Homo sapiens: one gene and its partners. The protein of the gene in region 2 purifies or fractionates together with the protein of the main gene of each other region. This does not show direct contact. Each region holds a gene or a part of one and is shown on either strand. Other genes may lie near its edges.

The links.
Region 1: the proteins of PTPN21 (region 2) and WWC1 purify together in Homo sapiens (affinity purification with mass spectrometry; 3 studies listed by BioGRID and IntAct, with this or other methods). This does not show direct contact.
Region 3: the proteins of PTPN21 (region 2) and WWC2 purify together in Homo sapiens (affinity purification with mass spectrometry; 2 studies listed by BioGRID and IntAct, with this or other methods). This does not show direct contact.
Region 4: the proteins of PTPN21 (region 2) and LPP purify together in Homo sapiens (affinity purification with mass spectrometry; 2 studies listed by BioGRID and IntAct, with this or other methods). This does not show direct contact.

The regions. Positions count from the first base shown.
Region 1 is NC_000005.10:168,427,518-168,436,286, reverse strand, and holds part of WWC1 (protein KIBRA), read right to left. Parts: intron 8,255-8,769; coding exon 8,146-8,254; intron 7,581-8,145; coding exon 7,500-7,580; intron 6,151-7,499; coding exon 6,064-6,150; intron 5,036-6,063; coding exon 4,843-5,035; intron 1-4,842. UniProt on the Homo sapiens protein: Regulator of the Hippo signaling pathway, also known as the Salvador-Warts-Hippo (SWH) pathway.
Region 2 is NC_000014.9:88,464,686-88,469,184, forward strand, and holds the end of PTPN21 (tyrosine-protein phosphatase non-receptor type 21), read right to left. Parts: intron 4,392-4,499; coding exon 4,231-4,391; intron 3,581-4,230; coding exon 3,452-3,580; 3' UTR 1,093-3,451; downstream 1-1,092.
Region 3 is NC_000004.12:183,262,104-183,270,872, forward strand, and holds part of WWC2 (protein WWC2), read left to right. Parts: intron 1-2,874; coding exon 2,875-3,004; intron 3,005-3,584; coding exon 3,585-3,665; intron 3,666-3,761; coding exon 3,762-3,848; intron 3,849-6,867; coding exon 6,868-7,060; intron 7,061-7,891; coding exon of another isoform or gene 7,892-7,939; exon of another isoform or gene 7,940-7,944; intron 7,945-8,769. UniProt on the Homo sapiens protein: Regulator of the Hippo signaling pathway, also known as the Salvador-Warts-Hippo (SWH) pathway.
Region 4 is NC_000003.12:188,148,912-188,157,844, forward strand, and holds the start of LPP (lipoma-preferred partner), read left to right. Parts: upstream 1-5,245; 5' UTR 5,246-5,341; intron 5,342-8,933. UniProt on the Homo sapiens protein: May play a structural role at sites of cell adhesion in maintaining cell shape and motility. In addition to these structural functions, it may also be implicated in signaling events and activation of gene transcription.

The DNA of each region.
Region 1 (8,769 bases), on a different chromosome or scaffold from region 2:
GATTTTGAAGGAGGTGGAGTCAGCAACTGTGGCAAATGTAGCTGGCAGGTCCAGAAGGAAGATGGAGAGCTGGCCTCTGGTCTGGTAACAAGGAGCTCCCTGAGGAACATGAAGAGCACACCCTCGGTACAAAGATGAGGGCCAGGCCAGGCACGGTGGCTCACGTCTGTAATCCCACCACTTTCGGAGGAAAAGGTGGGTGGATCGCTTGAGGTCAGAAGTTTGAGACCAGCGTGGCCAACATGGGGAAACCCCATCTCTAATAAAAATACAAAAATTAGCCAGGTGTGGTGGCGCGTGCCTATAGTCCCAGCTACTTGGGAGGCTGAGGCAGGAGAATGGTTTGGACCCGGGAAGCGGAGGTTGCAGTGAGCCAAGATCACGCCATTGCCCTTCAGTCTGGGCAACAGACTCTGTCTCAAAAATAAAAAAAAAGAAAAAAGAAAGATGAGGGCCAAAGTCCACATGGATTGGGTTACAGAGAGGAAGGGAACACCTCTTTCAAGTTTTTCTATAAAGAAAGGGAAAGAAACAATGTAGTAGTTGGAAGTGGAAATGGGGTGAAAAAAGTTTTAGGTCGGGTGTGGTGGCTCACGCCTGTAAACCCCAGCCCTTTGAGAGGCTGAGGCGGGAGGACTGCCTGAGCCCAGGAGTTCAAGACCAGCCTGGGCAACATAGTGAGACCCCATCTCTACAAAAAATACAAAAATTAGCCGGCCATGGTGGCATGTGCCTGTAGTCCCAGCTATGGGAGAGGCTGAAGTGGGAGGATCACTTGAGCCCAGAAGGTCAAGGCTGCTGTGAGCTGAGTTCACAGCACTGCACTCCAGCCTGGGCAACAAAGCAAGATCCTCTGTCAAAAAAAATTTTTTTGTTTTGTTTTGAGCATGGGAGAAATAACAGCATGATGATATACTGATAGGCTGGATCCAGTGGAGGAGGGAAAATTGAAGATAGAGGAAAGAGCGGAATGGCTGCTGGAGTAATGTCCTTGCGAGAAAATGGGGGTGGTGGCCTCAGACAGGAGTGCAGAAGGCCCACCCTCAGAAGCCAGGGAAATGGCAGAACCTACAAGAACAGCCAGATATGGTGTGGGGGCCCTCTTCTGAGTCTGTCCTCTCTTCTCTCCCTGAGAGAAGTATGAATTAGTCATTGTGATGAGTGGGTGAGTAAATGGTCCAGGGAGATACAGTATAATTTCTGGGCAGCATTGAGGGCTCATGGGAAGTGAGTGATCACCATTTCCAAATGATACCATACAGCGTGGTTGTGTGCATTTTTTTTTCCAGTTGCTCAGTTGGAGAGGAGGGGGTGGAGAGTTCACTTTGACAGGGCTGGGTTTTGCCAAGTTAGTATGCCAAAGTGAGAGGAGGCAAGGGAACGGTTGTAATGGTGAACCATGGGACGTCAGTGGGGCCTGAGAAGCAGGCTAGCTCGAGAGAGCCCGGGCTGGGTGGCATTGAGCTCAGCAGTAGAGCAGTGGGCAACTAGGCTCCCTGTGATGCCATGCAGGGCATTTGGTGGAACTGTTGCCTGCGATATTGGGAAGGTGGGCTGTGTATTCCTCCAAACCTGTAATCTGGGTCTGGGGACATGAGAGACACTCATAGTAACCCCCTGAGAAGTAGCATGGTGAGATGGCTACACATAAGGAAGCTGGAGTCTCTGTTCAAATCCAGGCTTTGCCATTTTCTCCTTGGATGACCTGGCAGCTTACTTAGCCTTTCTGGGCCTTGATCCCTTATCTTCCTGGGGCCATCACGAAGATTAAATGAGATACTGCACATGAAGTTCTTAGCCCACTGGTAGACACATAGACTCAACTCAGTACAGATGCTGTTGCTGCCTGGCTGAAAACAGACTGGGGATTCCACACATCCTGCTGTCCGGAGTCTCTGCGTGGGAGAGGACAGGCCTTTTTCCTCCCATCTCACTTCCTCTCCTCCTCCAGCCACCAGAATACGACAGCCTGACACTCCATGTCCCCACCGTATATGGGAAAGGAGGTTTCCCATTGGCCGCAGGCAGAGACAAGCCACAGTGAGATGAGCGCTTTGGCTGCTGCCATGGCAACCAGCAATGACCAGACTTCAATTAGGAAGGAGGAATAAAAGGCATCCAATTAGGAGAAGAAAATAGGATTGAGCCTCTTCTCGCTTAGGAATGCCCAGGGCCAAGGGAATGCTTCGCTGGAGGAGCCCAGGCTTGCCAACCCCTTCAAGTCACCACCCCCATCTCTGGGCTCCAGGGAGCCCTGTGCTGGCAAAGAGACAACACAGAGGCGCTGACGTGTGTGGACTTCAGAGGGAGACCTGCTGGGGTTCAAATACGGCTTCTGCCACTTTCCTAACTGTGACAGGAAAGGTCTTTCACCTCTTTGTGCCTCAGTTTCTCCACTGGAATACGCTACCTATTTTGCAAGGTTGGAGTGAGGATCAATAGAGATAATGGGCTGGGGTGGTGGCTCACACCTGTAATCCCAGAACTTTGGGAGGTGGAGACAGGCGGATCACTTGAGGTCAGGAGTTCAAGATCAGCCTGGCCAACATGGCAAAACCCCGCCTCTACTAAAAATACAAAAATTAGCCGGGTGTGGTGGTGGGCGCTTGTAGTCCCAGCTACTCTGGAGTCTAAGGCAGGAGAATTGCTTGAATCTAGGAGGTGAAGGTTTCAGTGAGCCAAGATCACGCCACTGCACTCCAGAGACTGAGAGCAGGACTCAGTCTAAAATAAAAAAAACAGATAATGCATGTAAAGAGCTTAACTCAGTGCCTGCCATATAAACTGCAACCTACTGGTATTAACTACTGCATTATTGTCAGTAACAACATCAATAGCAGTGATGCTGTGTTGTACCCAGCTAAGAAGGAGAGATGGGAACCGATATCCAGTGAGCACAAACTGCAAACACTTTGCTGCTCTACATTCTTGCTACCCAAAGTGTGATCCAGGAACCAGCAGCATTGGCCTCACCTGGGAGCTTATTAGAAATGCAGAATCTCAGGTTCTGCTCCAGACTTGCTGAATCAGAATCTGCATTTAGCCAGAGCTCCAGGTAACTTGTGTGCATGGCACAGTTTGAAGCGCTGCTTCAGCGCCTTAGTTAGTCTTCAGAGAACCACCTCCAGGAAGGCAGTATGAGCCAGATTTTACAGATAAGGGAACTGAGACTAAGAATTGAAGACTGTGAGGAGACACAGCTGGAAGGGCAAGGCTGGTGACAGCCCCAGGCCACAATCCAAGGATGTGGCCCCACAATGCCATGATAGAGAAGGGTTTTATAGCGCATGCAGATCAAGGCAAGGATGGAGAGCAAAGAGATTCCCTTCTCTGGGCAAAGGTCTGTGATTTACAGCAGGAGAAAGGGGCGAGCCCTCCAAGAAGGCAGTGAGAGGCTCTACATTCCAGCTTCCAGAAATGGAGGCAGGAGAGGCTCGGAGAGGTGTATACATCTTGTTTTTCCCCTTTGCACATACCCCACATTTTCCTCCATCACTTCAACCCATCCATTTCCAACACGGCCCTCCTCACAGTTTGTTTACATCTTAGCCATCAATGCTGGCACCTTGTCTGTTTGGTTCCCCATTGAATCCCCAGCCCCAGACACAGGGGTGGGGACACAACAAGCTCCCAGTACAGATCTGAGCATGAGTGGAGCGACCTTCTAGGTATAATGCCCACACTTGGGCTCCTTTGTGCCCACAGTTGAGTTATCATTAAAATATTCTAACACTAAATGGCATCAGGGTTAACAAAGCCCTTTACTTCTTCTAATTCACTTGTACATCACAAGCCCGAGTTAGCTATTATATAAATCCCCCTTCTACAGATGGGAAAGCTGAGTATCTGTCTGCACTTGGGTCTGCCTGTCTCTTAGGACAAAATGTACTTGGGCTACTTCATCCCCAGTCCTGACTCCTGCCAATGCAGTGAGAGATGGAAGCCGGAGAAGGTCAGTTTCAGGGAGGAGGCTGGCAATGGCCCCACTAAACGAGAACCCACTGTGGATCAGACACTTGAATAGGTGTTTTACGGGTGCTATCTCAATCCTTATAAAGATTCTTCCAGTGGGCATGATGGAGGCATTATCATTTGCATTTTAGGGATAAGAAAAATGAGGATCAGAGATGTTAAGTACCTTGCCCAAGGTCATCCAGCTATACAGCAAGTGGTAAAGGTGGGATGTGAATGCCTATGTGTTTGCTTTCATTACTCTGTGCTTTTTTTTTTTTTTTTTTTGACACAGGGTTCTGCTGTTGCCCAGGCCAGAATGCTGCGGCATGATCAGCTCATTGCAGCTCAAGGGATCCTCCCATCTCAACCTCCAGAGTAGCTAGGACTACAAGCATGCACCACTATGCCTGGCTAATTTTATTTTTTGTAGAGATGGGGTCTTGCTGTGTTGCCCAGGCTGCTTTCGAACTCCTGCACTTGAGTGATCCTCTGGCCTTGGCCTCCCAAAGGGTTGGGATTACAGATATAAGCCACCACACAGCCATAGTCTGTGCTTCTTATCTAATCTCTCATGCTGTATAGTAAAGCTGCAGTATGTGGCTTTTTCCAGGTTCTGGCAGTTTTAAAAGGCACTTTCAGGTCCATTACTCTTCCTCTTGTGAAAGAGCTCCTTCCCTCCCACCCTAAGTCTGAGAACAACATTCACCTGTGGAAGCCTCGCTGCCTAGAATCCAAGATGAGCCTGATTGATAGCACAACCTGCGTCTCCTTCGAACCTTCTTCCTGAAGCTCAGGGTAGACCAATCCCCATAAACACAGAAGGCCGGTCAGCCAGCCAGCCAGCCAGCCAGCCAGCCAGCCAGCCAGCCAGCCAGACACGGCCCTTACCAGGCACTCTTCCAGATGGCTCCTGTCGGTGGTACAGACATCGACTCTTAAGGTCTTCTGGTGAAGGGCTGGATAGGACATGGATACCCAGAACACCTCATTGAACACTAGAGTGTCTGAGGCGTCCAGAGGCCGGGTCCGGAACAGGCAGGTTGTGCTTTCAGAGCAAGGAAGGACAGCCACGCGGATATTCCTAGAGGGAGACAGAACCGCAGGAAATCTTGGGTCAGCCCATGTCTGGGGCTAAAATGTTGGACTAAACAGCTGCTGAAATCCCTAAGCAAACAACAGTGGATGAGAGTTTGTAGAAGTGAGGAATCTGGGGAATCAGGCCCCTATACACTGGAAGGAACTTTGACAAATCGAACAAAATTCCAGATGCATTTGTCCTTTGGTCCAGACCCTTCACTTCTAGGCATTATCCCACAGATGCCCCTGCATGAGTACCAGTGAGCTATGGAGGAGGCTATTCAGCCTGGCACTGTCTGTGTGGGCAGAAGACTGAAATTGACCCAAGCATCCCATCTTGTCTTCCTTCCGTTTTGTCCGCCTTCCTGCCCTTTCTTCTTCCCACATGTGCCACCCTCACAGGCTGGCTGAGTGTAGACCACAGACACATAAGCTTCTGTTGCCACCCTCCAGGCCTTACGATCAGAGAAAACTTGGAGGCAGATGAGTGCAATAAAGGATAAACCCATCTACCATGGGAGGAGCCCACAGGCAGACAGAGCAGGTGTTTGCATCCTACCAGCATCAAGGTAACACGCAGTCACACCCCTCCAAGAGAAGCAGTGACTGGTGTTGACTCTTGGAAACAGAAGACCTATCTCTCTCTGCAAGAAACACTTGAGCTTAGGAGAAGATAAAACAGACTGTGACCATTCTTCTCCATGAGGCTCAAAGTCCAGGAGGGTAGGGCCCAGGAAGGATCTGCTCACCACCCCATTCCTAGAGCTGGCATGCAGCAGGTGCTCAGCACGTAATGGGGCAGGAATTCACACAGTCATCTAGAGAGTGCTTGTCTTTACAGTTGGTGTGCTTGCCGTTGTGCCTGTATTCACATGCACAGCACCGACATTCAGCATCACAGTCATATGCAGTACAAACCCACAGTGCCTTGACAAGGCCCATAACTGGATCAGGACAGGGCAGAAAAGTGACCCCCAGGGGTAACTCCAGAGGGTTAGGGTATGAAATACACCTGTCCAGCTACATACTCACACTTTCTGGTCTTGTTGCTGCAACAGAGCAGAAAGGTTACTCAGCTGGATGATTAATATTGCAAATTGCTTATTCTTCTCATCATACCTGAAATGAAAAGGGGCATATGAAGTACCTATTAGTAACACACTCATCTCTCTCATTCCTTCTCTCCATTAAAAGTCACAGGACGTGGCTGTTGGCTGCCCTGGGGCCTATGGTGAGCTCTAGAGCACAGGCCCAGTGCTTTGCTGCCATGCAGGGATGTAGAGCTAGAGCTGCCAATTGTTTGAAAATTTTTTTTTTGTTTTGAAACAGGGTCTCACTCTGTCATCCAGGTTGAGTGCAGTGGCATGATCGGGGCTCATGGTAGCCTCGACCTCCCAGGCTCAGGTGATCCTCCCACCTCAGCCTCTCAAGTAGCTAGGACTACAGGTGTTCACCACCACACCCAGCTAATTTTGTGTATTTTTAGTAGAGATGGGGTTTCATCATGTTGCCTGGGCTGGTCCTGAACTCCTGGAATCAAGTGATTCCTCTGCCTCAGCCTCCCAAAGTGTCAGGATTAAAGGTGTGAGCCACCACACCCAGCCAGTTGTCTGAATTTTTAAAAAGAACCCATAAATGCGGGTGAAATTTCATGATATGGAAATGTTGTCAACTAATTCCTATTAAAAAATATTGAAGGCCAGGTGTGGTGGCTCATGCCTGTAATCTCAGCACTTTGGGAGGCCAAGGCGGGCAGATCATTTGAGGTCAGGAGTTTGAGACTAGCCTGGCCAACATGGTGAAACTCCATCTCTATTAAAAATACAAAAGTTAGCCGGGCGTGGTGGCACACACCTGTAATCCCAGCTACTTGGGAGGCTGAGGCAGGAGAATCGCTTGAACCCAGGAGGCAGAGGTTGCAGCGAGCTGAGATCACACCACTGCACTCCAGCCTGGGTGACAGGTGAGACCCTGTCTCAAAAAAAAAAAAAAAAAAAAATTGAGATCATATCATCCCCCAACAAAAGAAAACAAAAAGAACAACCATGTGTGTATTGACCCAATCTGGGCTGCAGCCCCCAGTGATCAACTTCCATCCAGATCAATGAAACCTAGATGGGATGGAAAGACAAAAGCCACAGCAACAATGAACAAACACACTGAGAGGCAGGAGGTCTCAGTCCCAGTCCTGGCTCTGCTACCAGCCAGCTCAGTGAGTTGGGCCAAGTCATAAGGTCTTTTAAAACCCCATTTCTCCAACCTCATTTCTCCTATCTGTAAAGCGGATGGCTGGGAGGTGAGGAACGAATCAGCATCCCTTCAGTTAAGAAGCTGCAATGGCCAGCAGGTCCTGCTGGTGCTGCCTTCCACCCTGGGCGGCTGTGAAGGTAAATGCTGGGGAACGCTGTGGATGAAGAAGGGACCCCACACAGACCGTTCCTTCTGTCCTCCTCGTCCTCGTCACTTACTTCAGGGCAATCTGAATTCGGGTCGCACCCACTGCTTCCGATTCGTCACTGTCAAATGCAGCAGCTTCTGAAGCACCCAGTCTGAAAGGCAACAGGGGAGGAGGAGTTAGGCTTCCCTACAGTGAACAAACTATTCTGGGAGGCTGAGGTTACATCCCCAGGAAGGAAAGTTGGGGTTTGCTCAGCTTCCCTTCAGGTCCTTTTTTAAATTTTAATTAAAAAAAATTTTTTTTAGAGATGGGGGCTCACTATGTTGCCCAGGCTGGTCTCGAACTCCTTGTATCAAGTGATCCTCCCACTGAAGCCTCCCAAGTAGCTGGGATTACAGACTCACACCACTATGCCCAGCTTGGACTCCTCTCTTAAGGGGCCTTCCCTTTCTCTAGTGCTTGCTCCTTAGCCATATACCTTTTTCGTAGCTACCACAGAACTAGCACTCCCCCAAACCTGAAGCATCTCTAACCCCAGGAAAAGTTATGCTGTCTGTGCCTTGGGCAGCCAAGAGGAAGGTGGGGTCATGCCCTCTTGGGGCTCCTCCCACACACTGTGGGGGCCAAAACCTAAGCCTCTCCACAGGCCTAGGCTCTGGATATTCAGAGTTCATGGCTTACAGGGCCACAGAGAGAGCCAGCACCCAGACACCTACCTCTGCACGGAAGCCTCGTACACACCACTGTCTCCAGCCACTGACTCGTCCGATACGGCGGCTGAGACACAGGCCACTTTCAGGCCACACCCCTGGGCCGTATTCACAGCTAGGGAAGGAAAATGGAAAGGCAGGTTCAGGAACCAGGAAACTGCCTTTGCGACTCCCAATTTTGTTTTGTTTTTGAGGCAGGGTCTCACTCATCCAGGCTGGAGTGCAGTGGCACAATCATGGCTCACTGCAGCCTCGACCACTTCGGGTTCTGGTGATCCTCCCACCTCCGCCTCCCAAATACTGGAACTACAGGCATGTGCCACCATACCCAGCTAATTTTTGAATTATTATTTTGTTGTAGAGATGGGGTTTTGCCATATTGCCCAGGCTGGTCTTGAACTCCTGGTCTTAGGCGATCTGCCTGCTTTGGCCTTCCAAAGTGTTGGGATTACAGGCGTCAGCGACTGTAATCCCAACACTTTGGGATTCGGGGAGCCTGAACTCCCAATTTTGATACACTCTCTATGGAAGACAGACGGTTCCACCAAATTCCAACCACCTCTAAATGCTAAAGCAAAAAAAAAAAAAAAAAAAAAAAATTAAAAAAAAGTTTGCTTTAGGGTGATGGAA
Region 2 (4,499 bases):
TGCCACTGCACTCCAGCCTGGGTGACAGAACGAAACTCCGTCTCAAAAAAGAAAAAAAAAGTCTTATTTACAATAATTTCCTGTTTCCATTTCTTTATGCAAATCTCAAATAATAAACCTGCTCTTGGCAAGCTGCAGCTAATCTCCAGTTTATATTACTGTACATAGTTGTATATTTAAATTTTCTTAATATTGTGAACATTTAACATCTCAACCCTTCTGAAATGACTGATGGTGAAAGCTTCACAGAAAAGCTGGCCACGTCATGCTGTCGCCACTCAGTCCCACAACACCACACTCTCCTCCCTCCTCCTCCTGTTTCTGGCTAGACATTGCTTTCTGGACGTTTCTAAGGAAGCACAGGCCCAGCTTCTAATTCGACCAAAGGGTTTTAAAGTCTAAGTTCTAGCATTTTCTGAATGCTTCACAGTAGATGTTCCAGAAGAAATTAATGACTACAATAAGCATTCCAAATGATATTCTAAAATGAGGACTTTCTGGCTGGACACAGTGGCTCACGCCTGTAATCCCAGCACTTTGGGAGGCCGAGGCAGACAGATCACTTGAGGTCAGGAGTTGGAGACCAGCCTGGCCAACATGGTGAAACCCCGTCTCCACTAAAAATACAAAAATTAGCCGGGCATAGTGGTGCATGCCTGTAATCCCAGCTACTCAGGAGGCTGAGGCAGGAGAATCACTCGAACCCAGGAGGCAGAGGTTGCAGTGAGCCGAGATCATGCCACTGCACTGTAGCCTGGGCAATAGAGCAAGACTCCGTCTCAAAAATAAAAAATAAAATGAGTACTTTCTGTGCTCAAAACTACCAACTAAGCTAAACTATTTCATCAAAAGACCCCACTAATCAGGAAAACTGATACCAGAGATACCAAAATTGATCAGTGGAAAACAGTGGTTTATAACTCTACGTTTTGTGGAAGTGCACATTTTGATAATTCTTATTAAAAGACACTAAGATACATGAAGCATTGTGTAAGTTTGGCAGACATTAATATACTCATTTCAGAGGCAGTAAACCTATGAACCCTTAATGTTCTAGTTTGCTCTTGAAAATGATACTATTTCAAAGCTCAGTAATGTGGATAGATTTTTATTCAGAAATCCTTTCATATTCACTAACTGCAATTAAAAGTTTAAAATTACATGGCTCTTAGGAATGACGCCAAACATGCAACATTTTAAGAGTAATATTAAACAGTAATTTTGCCCTCAGAAGTTTACTTATCAAATTATTACAACAGGAACACAAATAGACCACATATTACTCTTTAATTAGATTTGTTTTACAATATGTTCTTGTCAACGAGCTATGTCAAACTGTTTGTTTAAACCTGACAGAAAAGCATTTTCACAAAAACGTACCATGGAGAGGGAGGGGGAGGGGAAGAAGCACTTTTTCTAGAGATGGAAAATAGTTCCAGTAAAAAGTTCTTATTCCTTTCTTCTAAGGAGCTCGTTCTGAATATTTTCACTTAGTTCTACTGTTCTTTAAACAGGACTTTAAAAAGAATTTTGTATTTACAAAATTTACATTTTGTTCCTACAAAATGTAATTTTTTAATTTTGTAAAATAAAAATGTAAAATTTTAATTTTGTTCCTACATGAGAAGTGTGCGTACTTTCAATTAGTTTTCATTAATATCTTCTGAGTTTTCCTCTTAGGTGGTTGGTTTCTGGGTAAGGCAGAGTTAGGCTGGTGCACACACTATTTAGGAAGTCCTGTCTCGTGGCTGACAACATACATGTAGTGCTCAAGGAAGTGAGTTAAGGAGTGACATGGGAATCAAAATGATGCCTAGAATAGTGTAATTTGGGAAACAGCCCTAGATTTGACATTTTGGAAGTTCACTGTAAGAAGAGACCCCAAAAAGAAGGAAAAGGGAAAGGGTTCCTCAGCTAAATATCCCACTCATCCATGCCTACTCAGCGGTCACTGTGACAAGGCCATCTTAATCGGGGCCAGAGATGACACTCTCCCCCTGTAACTCAGCCTGGCTCTGTCTATTGGGATGTGCCTAAATGGGATGGGTGAGGGGGCACTAAACAGCTAACACTGGCCAGGGAATTATTAAGGAGCTAAAATGCAAGTACCTCTTGAATACCACAGCAATCTCTGTGCACAAATTTGGACTGTACTTTTTGGGAGAAGAGGTGAAAACTATTATTAACTATTCCCTTCCTTCAACCAAAAGGAAAAATACGCCTCTTTAAGGCTTCTTTTAATGATACTATAATGCTGAATTTATTTATGAAAAAGAAACAATACAGGTTGAGGTGGGAAAAGCCCCAAGGAAACGGAGTAAGTCACTGGCGGTCACAGGACTTGAATTCCCTGGGGACAGTGCTGTGGGGTCCCCTGCTCGCCATCCCAGCACCTCAGTCTGAGTATAGATAATACTGCATTTTTGTAAAGACGAAGGCATCCTGCATTTACCATCACACTCCACCTACTCTTGTCCTAGTCATCTTACATACTCTTAGTCCTTAATCTCTCCCAAAACGCTTCTCAGCGCCCATTGTTATTGTGTCATCTACAAAGCAACACATATATTAAAACTCAGATTTGTTTTTAACAAAAAAGTGCTTAAAACCACCCTAGGCAATTGTTTTTCACTTCATTTTCAACCAATAAAATCAAATTCATTTAGATCTATGAATAATACTGAAAAAATAATGCTTATTCTCTTACATTTTAAATAATGTGCCTTCATCCTCAACTTTACATTAACTGACTCATTTCAGTATCTAAATGAATTGAGCTCTCATTTGAAAAACAGAAGGTACAACTATATAGAATTTTTAGGATAAAAAATGTTCTGGATAGAAAAATCCTTTTGATGTTTCAAAATAACACAGATTCTCAGTATAGTTTTCAGTTTGGCAACTAAACCATTATTAAGTACCCAAGGTTTTTAAAAAATAACAAAAGATAATAACATGATTTTTAAATACAAAGTTATATAGGAGCAACTCATATCTGTGGATCATCCTTACACAAAGTTGTTTCTCACTAGAAAAATCCCTAAATATTTGTCATAAAATAAAAACTCCATTATCAAAAATTAGTTTAAGATAGAAATCTATGCACTTTAATGATTGCCAGAATTGCCCAGCATAGCTTCAGTAAAATAGAGAATTGTCTAGAAAATACAATCTCCAAAATGTGTGCAAGTACTGCAAACCGGACAGACCGGGGCAGGGCAAGGCCCTTGAAACCAAGTCCTCCTTGAGCACCTTTCCCAGGTTAGAAACCCCTCTTCAGCCTGTGCTTCGCACGTTTCCTTCAGCGTGCCGCCATTCAGACTGCGCCACTTACGTCCCAGTGCCACGCTGCGTGGATCAAGTGTCAACGGGAAAGTATGAGTTAGGCAAGCGCTTTTTTTTTAAGCTGTAAACGCTTCACATGACTGGCCCCGTAAGAAATTGTGGGAGCTTAGATGAGCCTGGAGCTTTTCAGGAACTGGATGAGGACTCTGTACACAAATGTGTACTGGCAGAGAGTCTGCACCAGCATCATTCTCTGTTGCCTCAGCATGTCCAGCACTCTCGGGATGTCCAGCACCTAGGTTGAGAGAAACGGTAATGAAGATAATGTGTTCCCCTGGGGAGACAGAAAGGATGGGAGGACACGAGTGTCCTGGCAGAAACCTGGTTGGGAGATGGACAGTCTCTTTTCCACCTTAGCGTCTTCTAGAAATAAGCCATGATTGCCTACTTCTGATTTTCTGATTAGTTTTAGCTATAAATAGAATGTCCATGCAGACTATTTCTTCAACATTCCCCAGGTGTAGCTCACTGACTTTGTATGGTTGGACATAATTACCATGTCTCACTAAATACCAAAATTATACAAAAACATAGTGTGCTAAGTGCTATCAGTATCTAGCTATTTCCCTCAAGGGCTCTGGGCAGCATGAATCATCCTTGAAATGTAAACAGAAAAAGAATTCTGAGCTCAAATTTGAAAAACCCTGGGCAAGTAAAACAAAATTAAACAGCTTTATTTATCGTATGACTTCTTAGTCTTTAATATGCTAATTGGTACTGAGACTCTCCAAGAAGACACAGCCTTTTGCAGGGAACATTAGTAACATCTTGAGGCCACCACAGTCCAAGGAAATGTGCGCAAAAAGAGCTATTAAGTCACTATGTCCCTCTCTTCCCCAGCCTCATTTCCACCCAAAAAGGCCAGGTGATCATAAGCGCCATCACCTCATTGTGTTCCAGGCAGGCGATCATGATCTCCGACAAAATCACCACGCCAGTCCTTCCTACCCCAGCACTGCAGTGGACCAACAACGGAGGGTTGGGGCTTTGGGGATCACTTGTGCTATTTGTATGGCGTCGAACAGACTGGATCTCTTCAAGATATGCTGTGGAAAATCAATGAAATAGAAAAGTACTCAAGGATCAAGGCGTATCACATTGTTGACTCAATCTTCATATTCTCTCCACTGATTAAGAGGACTGCAGATAAAGAG
Region 3 (8,769 bases), on a different chromosome or scaffold from region 2:
TAGAGATTGTAGTTCTTAGGCCTGCATTTGTATTCAAAAAGACAGAAACAGGAAAAATATCATTTTTTTGTTTGTTTGTTTGTTTTCCTTTGCAAAGCAGGAACTTTGAATATGTTAGATATGATTGTAAAGAGCACAAGATGTTTCCCTTGTTGGCAGATGATCACTGTTGGTCTGAGGAGGATGATCTGTTCCAGAGCTAGCTTGAGACAAAATGTGAAATAAAAGCCCCAGTGCTCATCTACAGCTGTCCTGTTCACAGCTACATGTTTTACTGACCACACAAAACAGGGCAGGGCTCTTTAGAAGTGCTCTCTTCCTGTTCCCAGAAGCATTTTTATTTGTATGTATGGTCCTAAGAATTCTGAGTAATTGATTGGCCAATTCAGATATGTAAAGACATTGACAAATCCACCTTGTTTCTACGGTTTCAAATACTGAAGAGCCAAGTGCTGTGCCCTGTCAGTGGCCTGGGCCTGTGGGAGGGCCCATGAGACATTTGTGTGGTTTGTGCGCCCTCTCCTGGGGAGATGTCAAAGCTACAAGTAGCAGGTTATGGAAATAACCACAAAGAAAATAACCAGGGGAATGGTGTGTGTACATAATGGCCCCAACAAAACAGAAAGCCGCGTGGGGCCTTCACCACTGCTTCTGGGAAGGAGTACGGTGTGTGTGCGTGCGTGCGTGCGTGTGTGTGTGTGTGTTAGGGGGTGCATACCACTCCTGGAACCAGCCAAGCCTCCACTCACATTTTAGTCACCAACGTGTTTGGGTAAGCACACTACCCAATCTCTCAGGATTATGATTCCTTATCTGCAAAATGGGGTTGCTACAGTAATCCTTGTGTCAGGCTGAAGGATTTAATGCAGTGATAACATGTGAAGCACTTAACCGTGTCTGGCACTCAGCACACAGTTCATGGTAATTATTAGTACTCTGTGACAGTGATGATGATAAGTAATAAACTCTGGCTAAACACAGTTCTTACTGTAAACCATGGAAAGCTATGAGAAGAAGAAAGAGAAGAAAATGGAATGTTCTGTGCCAGCGTTCCTTCCTGTGCTTTGAACTTACATCTTTTGACCTTTCAAGGTAGTTTTGCTCTTCCTGTATTTGGAGTGGTATCTAGTGACCACTTCTAACATTCAGCCAATTTGGAGGGGCAGTAAGTGAGGCTGGATGCTGGAGAAGAGGGGAGAGAGTGATGAGGGAAAAAGTTGCCTAAAGTCTGTCACCCACCCAGTAACCCTGAGGTCTGGGAGTCCTGTCTTGCAAGTGTGTCTGGTTGGCCCATGCCTTGCTCCTGACACTTGGGTCTTGCTGTGTCTGAAAAGTTTGTGGATGGAGACAGTATCTCTGAACCTTTGTGAAACAGTTTTTAACTTTTTAAATGCATATATTAGAAAACTGCTGTTAAAAAGTTACCCTAAGAGAAAATACATCCAAGAGCTTTGATTGCAGATAATATTCAGTTGCATGTCTGAAAACAAGTGAAAGCGTATATTTAACCATAAAGGCTAATTCTCACAAATTAGCTGGGCATGGTGGTAGACATCTGTAGTCCCAGGAGGCTGAGGCAGGAGGATGTCAAGGCTGCGACGAGCTGAGATTGCACCACTGCACTCCAGCCTAGGTGACAGGAGTGAGACCTTGTCTCAAAAAAAGGAAAGATGAATTATCTTCAAGTCACCAGCACTTTTTTTCAGGGGACGTCTGCCCTGCATGTGGGGTGGTGGCTCCCTATCAGGGACGTTTGTCATCTCCCTCAGTGCTCTAGAGGCTTAGGCAGGTAAAGTCAAGTCCCTTTTACGTAAACTTTGCTGTCCAGTGCCAGTCCCTGCTGGATGACACCAACCACGTTGGAATAACTGCAAAGGCCTTCCGCAGTCAGTCACTGTCATTGTCAAAGTCAATTTCAGGCTGCTGTGGTTATTCCTGGGGGTAATCAATAAATCATGTCATCACCTTCACCCTTCACAAAGGGGGGTGGGCGGAGAGAAGGCACTTCATCATCAAGGAAAAAGCATTCCCACTGCCAGAAATAAAGTGGAAAATGCAGCAATCAATCCTGTAATCTGAAGCCTTAAAACTTAAACATCTTCACAAGATGTAAAGTCACGGCTCAGAAGGGGGCCAAAATGCATACCAATACAGATCCCTGCGCTCACTCTCACTCACTGGAGGATGAAAGAGCACCACAGGCTTGCAGCTCATTACAGTACAGAGCACAGCCTTAAATGAATGTTCCTTGCTCACTGCAGGATGCTGGTGTATGAATATGAGTTCGAGATAAAAGTTAAGTGGTCATTGGTACTAAAGATTCAGTAGCACAAAAAGTTTTTTAATGGTATTGGCTGGTGAGGAGTTCCTGTGAGTCAAAGACATTTTTTCTTTATTTCTGTTAGAATAGTAGCACAGGAGATGTAGGATATGGCATGTGGAGAGAAGGGGAGACCAAAAGAGGTGGAAACTTATCCATTGAGTAGCTAGAAGCTCTCTCTGTGATAGAAATGTCACTTGAGGGAGATAGATCATTTCCTATTCCTGAATATATGAACACTGCAGTGAATGCTTGAAAGAAAGAGACTAAGGACCAATGAGAATTTGTGTAATTCATCCCTTCCCTTAAAATATTTCAGGACAAAGAAAAACCATATTCTCTTCCAAGTAATGACTGAAAAAACTGGCGTCCCAGGAATCTTATAAGTCATAGTGCCTTGAGTTGTTTACAGCTGTAGATTTGAATATTAACATCCTTGACTCCCAGAAGGAAATCTTATTTTGGATTGCTCATGACCAAACTATGTATGTATTTAATACTTAACTTTTCCAAATAAGACATTCTGATTAGTGCTCTCACCCTCCCCTCCATAGATGTGGAAAAATCATTACCAAAAAGAAGAGTGATCCACTTGCTTGGGGAGAAAACCACTTGTGTGTCGGCTGCTGTGTCTGATGAGTCTGTGGCTGGAGACAGTGGGGTCTATGAAGCTTTCGTGAAACAGTAAGGATTCAGCAGGGGCGCTTTTAGCTCCAGCGAATCTCCATCGCCGTGGATGTGGGTTATATGCTGTAAATGGACTGCTACCATTAGTCCGCTCTTTGGCTTAGTAAGGACTTTAGCCGTTAAAGAAGTGGTGTGCCTGAAAAGTTCAGTATATCAAAAATGACTTAGCCATGGAAATTATCGATAAACAGATTGGTGTACCCAGAGGCAATTGACCCTCTTTAGAATTTAAAAACCTTGAATTTAGTGGGAATATTGGAAGAATTCACCAGACCCTGTTTGGCACATGAAGCTTCTCACGTGTATTTCTGAAAGTCTGAAATGTCTCAAGGGTGTGGTATATTTCTAGTAATAAGGAAAGTAGTCATCAGAGAGGCTTTGCCCTAAAGCCCAGAGGCGGGCTCTTCTTGAAAAGAGCCTCTGAAACAGTAAGCTTTCGCTGGGATCAGTTCCACTGGGAGGGCATAGGAGTGCTGTTAATTTGGATTTTCATTCAGAATCACTAAGTGGCAAACTGTTAACCATAACAATCGATAACCCCATTAATTAACTGTTCATCTACTCCCTGTCCATATAGACCTAGTGAAATGGAAGATGTCACATACAGTGAAGAGGATGTAGCCATTGTAGAGACCGCCCAGGTTCAGATAGGACTCAGGTAAGGAATGTACGTGGGAAAGGAGCAGTTCTGACATCTGTGCAGGGCAAGTGGCCTGTGGTGATTCCTGACTTCATTTAGCCTCTCTTTTGACAGATACAATGCAAAAAGTTCAAGTTTCATGGTGATTATAGCACAGCTCCGAAACCTTCATGCCTTCTTGATACCTCATACTTCAAAAGTGTAAGTAAAATCAGCGAAGATCAAATTGAGGAACTTAAACATTTCCATGTAAGAGAATTTTACACTGTAATCATACAGTTCATCAAAATGAAGATACGGAAAAGACATAGCAGGGCTGATCATGTCTAAATGAATGGCAGATAAAGATGAGAAGGGAAATGTGAGGAAGACATATTGAGTTTTAATTCTTACTCAACTGATTCTTTCTAAGAGTAGAAGCCAAGACATTTAATCTCTTTTTTGTAACCAGAAGCACTGTTTTATGCTGTGTTGGAATTTGATTGAAATATGGGTAAAATTTTTGTTTTTGTGTAATTGTTACTACTGTTGTTTAAGGAATTTTCTAATCTTTTACATTAAAATGTAGTGATTAAATTTTATGTATCTGTACAACATTGCCAGTCAAACATTTTATCATGCTACATGTAAGAGTATGTTTTTATCATCAAGCATTTACTTCCCTGTGACCAGTGAGTTCTTAAAGTTATTTCACTTCATCAAACCAAGAATCCCAACAAAGTGATGACATAATGCTACACAGTCCATTGCTTAGAGACTTTTTGCTTCCTGACAGATAAGCCTAAAGATCTCATGACAAATAAGTCTGGAAGTCTTAGACACCACCATTCACATTTTCTGACATCAGAGTTTCAGTGACTCTGAAGGGCTCATGGCTGGAAAGTACCAGGAAGAATCCAGACTTCGACTTAGCACTATGACGTAGAATCCGGAATATGCATGTCCACTCTGCATTGAAACTTCCTGTAAGAAGTGGATCTTAATAATATTTTGAATATGCAGTGCAAGGCTTTGGAAATTTAAAAAGAGCTGTTGAGGGGTGATCCCCAAGACTCTATACCCAGCCAGGTGAATGTTTTCCTTAATGATAGAGTATATTCCTTAGTGATAAGACTTTTAATAGAATAAATTAAAGAGTTCTGCATGTTTTTCCTACAGAGTTGCTTGTAAGTTCACCTCCTAACATTCCAATAATCATCAGAAAGAAGAAACTGGATCTAAGAGAAAAAGAACTAGATAGAAATTATGTAGTTGACAATAGAAGAATAGAGATAGTGGCTTTCTTTTTTTTTTTTTAAGAGATGGGGTCTCACTGGGTTGCCCAGGCTGGTCTTGAACTCCCTGGGCTCTCCCACCTTGGTCTCCCAAAGTGCTGGGATTACAGGCGTGAGCCACCGAGCCCAGCCAAGATAGTAGATTTTAATGTGTTGACAAGCATCAAAGCTGGAGGTAGGATAGGATTCCAGGAGGAGGGTGAGCTTAGAGAACTTCCTGAATCAAAGTGTGGACTGTCCACATCATTAGTGAGACCAGTGAGGAGAGCAGGCATCACATAGAAGTGCCTAGATCAACGCAGAGAGCCTGCTTCCCAAATGCGAGATGAAAAACACCAGTCAGCGGTGTCCAGGAAGACTGGCTTGATATAAACTGTGACTTCTCCCTACCAGTAGATAAGCTGTGATGTTGGAGCATGCCATTGGTGGCCTTTTAGTAAAGCAAATCATGGAGAAGACAAGTCTACCAGAGACTGAAACAATAAACAGTGAGAACTAATGCACAACTTCAGGAGAAAACTACAGAACACCCCAAGAACACACACCTTCTTTAAACTCACTGTAAGGGTGCACCTGCAATATGCTCTACTTCAACTAAACCAATCACAGTCATTCTCACTTACCTCATAGGATGTCACCAAGTCCCTTCTGGAGGCATGGTGATACCTGCGTAGTGTAGGACCAGTGAAATACTCAGCCCAACCAATGAGCAGACATTTGCTCTTCGGCTCCCCAGCTAATGTGCAGGCACTTGTTGAGTTGGTGCGAACCTTCCTGACATATATAGCAATCTTTCCTTAAACCCACATGTAAAAGCCTTGGCCTAAATAATGACACTGCTAAACATGACAGCTAGTATGAAATATTCTTAAAATTGTTCTTTTTTTTCCCAACCTCAAAAGTTATTTTTTGATTATTAATTGTGACAAGCAGAAAAGATTTTCTTCTGCTGAATCTTCGGCCTCCCAGGGACAGTGAGCTGTGTCTTAGTAAGGCTCTTTAATCAACAGCAGTGGGCTTCAGGCCCACTAGGTTTTCATTGCTGAATCTCCATAATTAATATTGATATGAAATACAAAATAATATGACATTCCTCAGTTCTGCATTTGAATTACAGTTTTTCTAACGGAGAAAGGCATGTTTTAGAATCTAGATTAGACAAGCCTGGAAATGGGGGTGGAGGGGATAGACTTAGCGGTATTCTCTTCCTGGGATTTAAAGGAAGTTACCTCACGCTCTTTCTAAGAATTGTGGGTCCTCATACAATGTGTGCTCAGAAGAGTCACTTTAAGGTAGTATTAGAAGTTATTGTTTTTCTATAACTCTTCCTCTGAATTTTACAAAGCACGGGACTCTTAAAACAGTTTGTCGTATCTCAGAATTTGGAGATGCTAGACAGTGATATTTTTGAACCGTTGTTTCATCTGTTTTAAATTTTCTTAACAATATGCTACTGAGCCTTTCTTTTTCTCTAGTAGGATAATGTATTCCATTCCTGGGAGGTGATCATCAGCATCTCTTGTTTAATACTCAGGATGAGGATTCTGTGAGATAAAGTCACCAGTATCTACTTAGTGTGTTCCCACCTTCCCAGGCTCAGAAATAACTTATTTTGGAATTGGCTGTCCATGGGGCAGGTGGGACGTTAAATTCGTCTGCCCTACGGATTTTCTTCCTCTTCACTTTCCTATCATGTGCCTTTGCTGCAGTCTCGTGGTGAGTGGAGGCTGGGCCATTGCATGCTCAGGGGCGTAGTCAGCTCGGGTGGGTTAAGGACAGAGCATCTATGCAGCTGAGCACGGACCCGTGATGGCAGCAACACTTTAGATTGATCTTGAACTCCACGATCCCTCATTTTCTCTCTTTGCAGATAATTTCAAATGATAGCTGTGAATCTGGTATAATTAAAGTACCTATGAAATCCATTTTATTCTTGTTCTTTGCAGATATTTTAGGGTTGCCGTTCTTCCTTCCTCAACTGATGTCAGCTGTCTGTTTCGCACAAAAGTTCATCCGCCCACAGAATCCATTTTATTCAATGATGTGTTCAGAGTCGCCATTTCCCAAACAGCCTTACAACAGAAGACACTGAGGGTAGACCTTTGCTCTGTCAGTAAACACCGAAGGGAAGAATGCCTGGTAGGATTCTTCATAATTCCCATTACCAAATAGCACTTAGATTGGGTGGTCTGAGGATATACTTTGTAGTTGCTATTTTGCCAGCCCTAGAAATCACTACAGACCTGCCCAACATCTTGGGATACATCTAGTGTTTGTTCATTTTTTTCTGAAGTAGTGGTTTCTGTTTATTCTCTTATTCCAGACCTTTAAAATCTGCTTATAAATTGTGATTTTCTGTAAAAGTTGCTTTCTATTTCTACCTTTTCACCACAGAAGAACTTTACCTTTGTGACAGCTATCACTCATGGAGTGTGCTTACCACTCCCAGTACCAATGCCAAGCTTTGCGTGACTGCTGTGTATATATTATCTCATTTAATCCTCATGACAACCTGATGAAAGATTGGTTATGAAATGGATGATTATCCACTATTTTCAGATAAGGAGCTGCTTAGAGAGGTAATATATTCAACGGTCATACAACTAGTAAGCGATGAAGCCAGATATCAAAAAGATATCCCCACATAATTACATAATTCACTGTTACAAATTAAAATTAAGCAAGACCACTGAGTACTATATAGTACCCTTATTCACCTCATTCTCCTCCACCACAGTATTGGAGCTTTCGGGAAGATGTGATGTTACTGTTTAAAGCAATATGACATTTAAATGCTACAGCAGAAGACTTCACAGTTAACTAATTGTGAGTTTAATACACTGTTGTGCGTAATAACCAGAAAACCATTATGTCCCAGTAAAGTTACATAAGTATTCAAATGCAGGCATCTAGAGATGTGCCATGTGTTCAGAAAACAATGTGAGTCTCCAATTGAGCTTTTCTCTGCAGTCCAGTGGGAAGCACAGAAACACATGTTTCATGATGAACAAAGTTTAAGAGGGGTAGGTTTCTTCTTAATTTTTCTTCTTGTTTTCTTTACTTGAAAAAAATATCTGATGATATTGTCTGACAATAAAGTTAGAAAGAAGCAGAGCTAACAGACTCGTTAGGCTATCAGAAAGGCTTTAGTATCATAGATGTCATATTTAGTATAATAGATGTCAGAGGCTCCCACAAAGTTCATAAATATTATATTGATAGCCTTAAAGAAGAGTGTAATTGAATTTAGATTTTGTCTATGTGTGATTTGGTGGAATATGGAAAGCCTTTATCCTTTACTTTTTTTGCCATTCTACTAACTTATGTATCTAAAGAAAACTGTTGCTTTTTGATGTCTTATTCAAGAACCAAAGTGGAGTTTTTATTTTTTTTTCAGTGGATAATGGGTTGTTTGTGAGTAAGTCACCTTTACAGCATATTATAAGAAGTACTATGAGGCCGGGTGTGGTGGGTCATGCCTGTAATCCTAGCACTTTGGGAGGCCGAGGCAGGCAGATCACCTGAGGTCAGGAGTTCGAGACCAGCCTGGCCAACATGGTGAAACCCTGTCTCTACTAAAAATACAAAAATTAGCTGGGTGTTGTGGTGCGCACCTGTAATCCCAGCTATTCAGGAGGCTGAGGTAGGAGAATCGCTTGAACCCAGGAGGTGGAGGTTGCAGTGAGCTGAGATCACACCACTGCACTTCAGCCTGGGAGTCAGAGCAAGACTCCATCTCAAAAATAATAACAATAATTTCACATTTACATAAAAGGCATGCTTAGTCATTAGGTCTTCGCAAAATGGTATCTCACAAACTAATCCCAGGATTAGCTTTTAGGTTGGGG
Region 4 (8,933 bases), on a different chromosome or scaffold from region 2:
AACAGGTGGGGGGAGATCGCCCCCATGGTTCAATTAGCTCCACCTGGTCCCTCCTGTTACATGTGTGGATTATGGGAACTGCAATTCAAGATGAGATTTGGGTGGGGACACAGCCAAACCATATCAGGAACGTTTACAAGATTTGCGGTATGACATAGCATACTATGCTTCTGGAATATGAATTTGGTCACTGGGTAGAATGTAACATCAAATTGAAAAACTGGGAGAGTGTTAGAGACCACCAAATCTAAGAACCCAATTGAATAGATAAAGAAACTCAGAATAGAGAGGAAGTGACTTGCCAAAAGGTTGCACAGTAATTTAGGGTAAGGCAAGGACCATAAACATTTCTCTCTTGTGTCCCTCTCCATGCTAGTTTGTTTGTTTGTTTGTTTGTTTGAGACAGAGTCTTGCTCTGTCAACCAGGCTAGAGTGCATTTGGTTGCAAGTGCCAGGTACTGCCTTGGCTGCTGGGGAAGAGAAATGAACAAGACATGAAGACGACTATAAAGAATCCTATATTTGCATGGAGGAGATCAAACACACTTATGAAAAATCAGTGATCTTCGCTCACCGGAACCACCACCTCCCAGGTTCAAGTGATACTTGTGCTCCAACCTTCCGAGTAGGTGGGATTATAGACGTGTACTACCATGCCCTGCTAATTTTTGTATTTTTAGTAGAGACGAGGTTTCACATGTTGGCCAGGCTGGTCTCAAACTCCCAACCACAGGTGATCCGCCTGGCTCGGCCTCCCAAAGTGTTGGGATTACGGGCGTGAGCCACCGCACCTGGCCCCCATGCTAGTCTTGATTGCTACTTCCAAATGCCTGGGCAACTCTCATTGGTCTGCTTGCATTCAGGCCCCGTCACTTGAAGTTATCTGAAAGAGAAGGCTGAGGACTCCCGAGGGAAAAGGGAAGATATGCAAACAGAGATAAGCAGGGAGAGGTAAGATGTGCTTGGAAAACTACTAGAAGGAGGGTGGAGGGTGGGGGCACATAAAGGCCTGGAAGAAATGAGGCTGAAGGGACAAGTAGGTGCCAAATTATGAAGGTCCGTGCAAACCATACTAGAGGCATTTGGCCTGATAGGTTTTAGGCTCTCAGAGGCAACAGCAGATGGGTATTTACCTTCTATCACCCATGGCCCTCTTATTCTTATTATTTTTCTAATAGCCTCTTCAGAACTTTTCCTCTTGCTCAGCTGTAGGAGATCATAAGTTCCCTACGCTTGAGTGTTCAAACTGAGAGCAGATGGTCACTCAACAGTGGGTGAGCAAGGTGCCAGGTTGCCAGGGATCAGTGTGGAATCTTAGCTTACCTACCCTCAGCTGAGTAAGAGCTTACTCAGCTTGGGGCCGGGTGCAGTGGCTCATGCCTGTAATCCCAGCACTTTGGGAGGCCGAGGAGGGCAGATCACGTGGTCAGGAGATCGAACCATCCTGGCTAACCTGGTGAAACCCCCGTCTCTACTAAAAATACAAAAAAAAAAAAAAAAAAAATTAGCCGGGCGTGGTGGCGAATGCCTGTAGTCCCAGCTACTCAGGAGGCTGAGGCAGGAGAATGGTGTGAACCCAGGAGGTGGAGCTTGAAGTGAGCAGAGATCACGTCACTGCACTCCAGCCTGGGCGACAGAGCAAGACTCCACCTCAAAAAAAGAAAAAAAAAAAAAAAAATGAGCTTACTCAGCTCTTAACACAGAGCTAGTACTTAAACTCCCTGGGCTTTAGGGCTTTAGTTTCTTCATGGATAAAATAAAAAAATAATAATGCCAACCTCAGAAGGGGTCTTGTGAGAGTTAAGTGAAATGTATATGAAAACTCCAAATAAGGACTGGCATGAGCTACACAAAGGCCACGTGTACAGGACTGTAATGGATGCAAACGAAAGGCAGGACCCAAGCCCAGCTTGCCTAAAAGTCTTTTATGCCATTACTGAACCCATGAAAATGCTGCTGGTAGCCTTTAGGCCACCAGTGTGCTATCCTTGGCCCAAACGACCCCACACTACACCTGAAATTCTGTGTTTTAGCCTCTGAATTGGTAAACCAGTATTTTTCTACCACTGAGTGCAAATTCATACAACCTTTCCATTTCACGCAAGCGCCTGCACGTAGAAAGTTGTAACAGGAGGTTGAGAAAAGTAAGAGTACGAAAGAAACCAGAACAGTAAATGGGAATGAGGCTTTTGGTAGGGTTAGCACTGACGACAACACTGTATGCAGTTCACTAAGCATCCAGATTATGACTTGGGTGGTTGTACTCTTGGGAAGTTCCTCATGAGTCAGAATTATCTTTTGTAGTTAACTTTATATGATGTTCATGCTAACACCATGCTCACCATGCTCACCTGAGCAATTCATAAACATTTCAGGAGGAGAAACACAGTGACTTCCCCAACACACCCATACAACAGTTTCAACATAATTAGTAGCATTTCTGGATCCGGCACAGTACTCTTATAATGTATATGATGGAAGAAATGAACAACTCTAATTACACCTTATTAAATCTTAATCCTCATTAGGACCCTATTATTCCTTATAAGTGAGTTACTGAAGGAAAAAAAAAAAGGAAATGCTGGTCAAGTCCCGTTATATTCCATGAGGATTGAGATAATCCATTTTTACTTCATGTAACACTGGAATTCTTTTCATACTAAACAGTAGTACTCAGAATGTGAGTACGCTGAAATGTTTGAGTGAGTGGATTGTGTTTTGATAGGATCTGACCTTTTCAGAACCCCAGAAAAAACTCTCTCCAAGAGCCCGTATCTCCCATTTCAAACTATGTTAGTTGCAAAGAGATAAATTCTTTATTAGTCTGTGGAATGGGTGGTTATTCTCGACCTTATCTCTCTGTTACTGCCTTCATATATATATATGTATGTGTGTATATATATATGTGTGTGTGTATATATATATGTATATATATGTGTATATATATGTATATATATGTGTATATATGTATATATATGTGTATATATATGTGTTTGTATATATATATATTTTTTTTTTTTGACAACAGTCTTGCTCTGTCCCCCAGGCTGGAGTGCAGTGGCGCAATCTCGGCTCACTAAAACCTTTGCCTCCCGGGTTCAGGCAATTCTCCTGCCTCAGCTTCCGGAATACCTGGGATTACAGGCGCTCGCCGCCACGCCCAGCTAGTTTTTTGTATTTTTGGTAGAGATGGGGTTTTGCCATGTTGGCCAGGCTGGCTCGAGCTCCTGACCTCAGGTGATTTGCCCGCCTCGGCGTCCCAAAGTGCTGGAATTACAGGTGTAAGCCACCGCGCCCAGCCATGTTCATATTTTTGTATGTGTACATTAGATAGTTGAGAGGAACACAGAGGTTAAGTAGTCTTACCCCTGAAATGTCTGAATTCAAACACTTATTAAGCACAAGGAAGGTGCTTAATAAATCCAATAACATGTGTTTTTACATTATTTCCTTAATTCCTGGTCAAAAGAATCCCACTAAAGTCCATCCTCAGAAGAACCACTTTTTGGAGTTTTTATGAATCAGTAGCTCATGGTGTACTCTCAACAGTTATGAATGGAATTAGGTCCTGCTAGAGGTCAGGGCCAGGTATGGAAAGATGAAGGGATTAGTCAGGAGACCTGGATGGGAGGAGGGGAAGACAGGTGCTTGGTCAGTCAGTTGTTTTGTGTTGGGCGAGTAACGTTTCTTAAGTTTTTGTCTGAGGTGTAAAGGGGGGACTACGCTCTGTCCTATCTAACTCACCTGAAGATGCAATAGCCGGGTGAGAGACTGCTTTCATTATGTGCTAACGTGAGGGATTACTTTAGATATTAATAGGAGAGAAGTGCAAGGAAAGGAAGTCTCAGGGTATGGAATGCTTTCCTGGCCATGGCTGCTGCGCGTCATAATCCCCTAACACAGTTAAGTGGTGGTTCTCATCGTCGTTCACCCTTACAGATGTCAGAGGGGAAAGAAAAATCCAACTCAAAACTTCCAATGACAGGCTTGTCTGTATTCAAACCAGTTCATCTCGTTCGCAGACTTTTTTGAAGCTATAAGCACAGAGCAAGCTTTCTGGGCGGGGCTCAGAAGTAAACGTTAAACTCCAGGGATTCATTTATTTGAGCACAGGACAGAGGAAGTTGCCCTGAAGCAACTGATTGTCATTGATATTCAGGGCTCGCTGTCAACCAGGACCTTCCAGGAACTGGCTCTGGGCCAAGAGCAGTAGAAATCACTGGGTGGTCCGCACAGCTCGCGGGCATCTAACCTGCTTCAAGGCTCAGGGCTAAAAGGGAGCCAGGGCCCTTCCTGGAGGCGGGAACCCAAGTGGGAGGCAGAGCGCCTGGGCCCGCTCCTCGATCTGCTGAGTGACGACCCTGTACAAGTCATTTCTCTTCCGAGAGCTTCAGTTTCCTCACGTGCCAAGCGGACGGGTTGGAAGTTGGTCTTTGCCAGCTCTGACACCTTGTAAGTTTTGAGTCTTGCTGGGAATCCAGGGCGGGGCTCACGAGGAAAATCTTGGAAGGGGATTTCATGGCTGGATCTCTTCCACTCAAGCTCAGTGCCCTAATTTGACGCCTTAATAGTAGACGCAGGCTTTTCCATTTTCCAGGAGCCCCCTGACGCGGCCGCTTCCTCCTACGTCTCCTTCCTCTTCCTCTAGCAGGGGCAAAGTCTCCACATCTCCCTCTTTCTCTTCCTCCTTTGCAAGCTCCCTGCATTCCCGCGTCTCCTCCTCTTCCTCCCAGGAAATGCAATGCCCTCAGTGCGCCCACCTTTTGGCAAAGCCACTGCCGGCTGCGGGTTTCCCCTCCCCCGCCAGGCGAGCTCTGCGCGGCGGCTTCGCGGGCACACGCCTTCCCATACCTTACATGGACAAATGCGTGCAGGCAAAGTCAGGAATTCAGGCCCCTGACGTCAGCCTCCAGCGCTCAGGGCACCGCACGGGAGACCAAGGGGAGGGGGTGGGGACGGTGGGGAGGAAGGAGGGGGAAAGGCACCAACCAGCAGCCGCTCCAGCCCTGCCGAAGTTTCACTTTTTGTCTGTGGGTTCGTTCCCGGGTCCCGCGCGAGCTTTCCCGGGATAAGTAGCTTTAGCGATCGGGAGACAGCCGGGCGCTGCAAGGTAAGGGCTGGCTGCACGGCCCGGGGCGCGGGGCGTGGGGCGCTGGGCGCGGGCGGCGCGCTCGAGGAGGCCAGTGTGGGGCGCGGGGCCGGGCCTGTCCGGGGCTGGGGACAATGGGAGGGGGAGTGCCCGGGCACCTCCTCCTCTGCCTCTGCCTCCGCCTCCAGCCGCCGCCGCCGCCGCCGCCGCCGCCACCACCACCGCCGCTGCCCCGGCTGCCTCCTCCCTGAGGTATTGTTGCAAATCCTTCCTTCCCCTCACCCTCCACCCGCGGGCGCCTCGGGAACCCCCAGCCCTCCCCCGGCGCGAGCGCCTCCGGGGTGGCAAGAGCGCAGGGCGCGCGCCCTGCTCTGGCCTGGCCCGCTGTGCGGAAGTGCCGGCCGCGGCCCAATCACGGGGTGCACGCCATGGGGGAGGGGGACCCAGAGTTTTTCCAAAAGCGTCGACCCCAGGCTAGGCGGGGTTGGAGCCTTGCGCGCCCCCTGCCCGGACTTTTCTGGGCGCCCAGGGGGCGGGGCCACGCCCATCCGCTTAGAGCTTTCGCGGAATCACAGTTGTCACAGCGGAAAGGGCCTAGACCCAGTCCTCCAAGTCCTCCCATTTTACAGTTGGGGCAGCTGAGGCCCAGAGAGAAGGAGGGTCGCCCGGAAGTTATTTACTAGAGGCCAGACCATAATTCAAATAGTTGGCTCCGGACTTAAGTTCCCTTTCTCTAAGCATTTCTCTAGCACCCTGTGTGTGGCAGACCCTGTGCTGGGTGTATTGGACGTTGCCCTCAAGGAACTCAGTTGAACCTGGGAGTCAAACCTGGCCTAGGGTAGAAAATGCTAAGTGCTGGAGCAAAGGCGTGGACAAAGTTAAAGGAAGTTCCAGGGAGGGGGTTTGATTTTCTGGTCCCTGGGACGGCCTTTTGGAGAGTCCTGCACTGAATGGGGTTTTTGGAGGTTGAGGAGTTTCCTGAAGCCAGCTAGCGGCTTGGAGGAAGACATCTCTTCGAGGGAACCGTGGGCCAGAGAAGACTAAGTAGTGTGGGAAATGGAGATGAAAGTATAAATATTCTTTAGTTGGAGGCAAGGGGTTGGGGATGGGGGAGGTTGTGATATGAGATGAGCTAATCAGTGGAATTGTGCCTGGGTGCTTGGACAGGGCAGAGTCTTTGGAACCTCGGAGTCGTAGGAGAACTGAAAAATCTCTCTGGCTTCCCTTCCCTTAGAAGGGATCCACTGCTTTCCCTCCCCCAACACAAAACAACTAGCGAGAACTCAGGGTCTTCTCTGGGGCTTTTGCTAGTACCAAACTCACTTAACTGTGTTTCCAGTCCCCTTTCTCTTTCCATTCCTTCCCCTTTTACTAAATCTCTTGCCTTTCCTGTAAAATTCACTCTCACTAAGGTGTTGATGACTTAATGGCTTACCTTTCCCTGCACATGTGCATTTTAAGAAAGCCTAAAGTGAAGAAGGGGAAAGTGTGGCTAGGCACCTTTACAAAGCATCTAGCTCCCTCTCCCATCCTCCCCCTTCCTCAACTCTTATAGATAGAAGAATAGGTAAAGGTCCACGAAGGTGGGTGCTAGACCTAGAGCCTATGGTCAATAATGGTGGACAGTGGGGGGTTAGGACATCCAATATGGTTTTCTCCACTTCGTCACCAGTTTTTCTGCTTGCACAGTTCCTGCCAGCACCAGGGGGCAGTTAAAGGAAAAAGTGTGTGGGCCAGGCACGGTGGCTCACGCCTGTAATCCCAGCACTTTGGGAGGCCAAGGCGGGCGGATTGCCTGAGCTCAGGAGTTAGAAACCAGCCTGGGCAACATGGCAAAACCCTGTCTCTACTAAAAATACAAAAAATTAGCTGGGTGTGGTGGCGGGGAACTGTAGTCCCAGCTACTCGGGAGGCTGAGGCAGGAGAATCGCTTGAACCCGGGAGGCAGAGGTTGCAGTGAGTTGAGATCACACCACTGCACTCTAGCCTGGGCGACAGAGGGAGACTGCCTCTCAAAAAAAACAAAAAACAACAACAACAAACAAAGGAGAGTGTGCATTTTTGCATTTAATTTCTACAATGCAGGCCCCAACCCCAACACCCAAAACTTTATAGTCTAGAATGTAGGCTCCAGAGGGGATTACCTATTCTGAATGGTAGGGGTAAAAGCCTGGGGCCTTAGGGTCTGGCAGTCCCCCCAGAGGCAGGCTCTCTGTAAGCAGCATGGGTCTAGAGTTGGTTTTGAGTGTACGCAGAGGGAGGAGAAGCTGAGCTGATGAGCTGATTGCTGTGGCTGGGACTTGAGTAGGATCTTTCTTAGAGTGACACATTCTGGTGAAGACAGTTCCAGGAAATGATGGACGGGAGAGGAAACTTGGTTATAAAGGGGCTTAAAAATGCCAGGCTAAGGAGTTTGGATATATCTTAAATTCATCATTTGAGGGTTTTGAGCAGGCTGAGACATGATTTAGAGGGGAGGTACTGGCATCGAGAAGCCCCCTGCTGCCCAATTCCAATGAGAGAGGTAATAATTTGGCCTAAGAATATTATTGGCTTGGCACGATGGCTCAAGCCTGTAATGCCAGCACTTTGGGAGGCTCGAGGCAGGTGGATCACCTGAGGTCAGGAGTTTAAGACAGCCTGGCCAACATCGTGAAACCCCGTCTCTACTAAAAATACAAAAATTAGCCGGGTGTGGTGGCATGTGCCTGTAGTAGTACCAGCTGCTTGGGAGGCTGCGGCAGGAGAATCACTTGAACCTGGGAAGAGGAGGTTGCAGTGAGCCGAGATTGCACCATTGCACTCTAGCCTGGGTGACAGAGTGAGACTCCATTTCCTCTGCTGCGCCCCACCCCCCCAAGAAAAATAATATTATCAATTGGTTCTTGTTCATTTACTCGACATAGGTTACTGAATACCTATTACGTACCATTGGCAAATATGAAAATTTTATAGCAGATTCCTGTATTTTATTGAGACAAATACGTTGTATCGAATCAATTGTAAAACACACTTTTTTCACATTTTAATATCACTGAAATGTGGTTGTCTTATTACAATGTACCATAGTTGTGCAGTTGTTTTTCATCCTAAGTTGGTAATGGCACATCTTATAGTTGATGGCTTAAATCTGATAAAATTGTTCATCATGTCGTTTATGAATGTACAGTGCTTTGCACTTTATAAAACACTTTCCAATCAGATACTCCATTTGAATCTCAAAGGTCCCCTGAGAATGAGGCCTGCTGCTGCTGTCACCTTTATTTTAACCCTTGCCCAAGGTCATATAGCTAATTAGGGATGTGTTCAAAATTACAACCCAGAACTTTTGCTTCTTGGTGGTGACGTGTGACTTTACCCTGCTGTTGAGCCAGTCTGGGTTAATTGGGAATGGGGCAAGAGTTAGATCGGATTTGATTTCAGAACTATGCTGAAGATGCTGGATGATGGGGATTTTGTACACGGGTAGAGTGTAACTCATAAGAACTGTGTAGCCCCCTTAGCACAGATATTTGCTGCATTAAGCAGAAAAAAGACAGGGAGATAGAAAATGGCAGGTAGCAGGTAAAACCCGGGGTTGGAGCCTGCTTACGGTGAACCAGAAACTGGCTTGGCCCTGAGCGTACAAAGATGAGGTGTACATGGTCCCTGCCTTTGAGGAGCACACAAGTGTGTGGTGTGTGTGAGGGGGAGGGAAAAAGGTGGAGTGGGGCATGTCCGTGTATTAAGTGCTTTTACAGGGTAAGTTTTGGCTGCTCTTCACTGAGAAGGCTCACCCTCAGGGAAACCACTATAGAGAGGGGGGTGTCTGAGCTGAACCTCTAGGAATGAGTAGGAGTTGTCC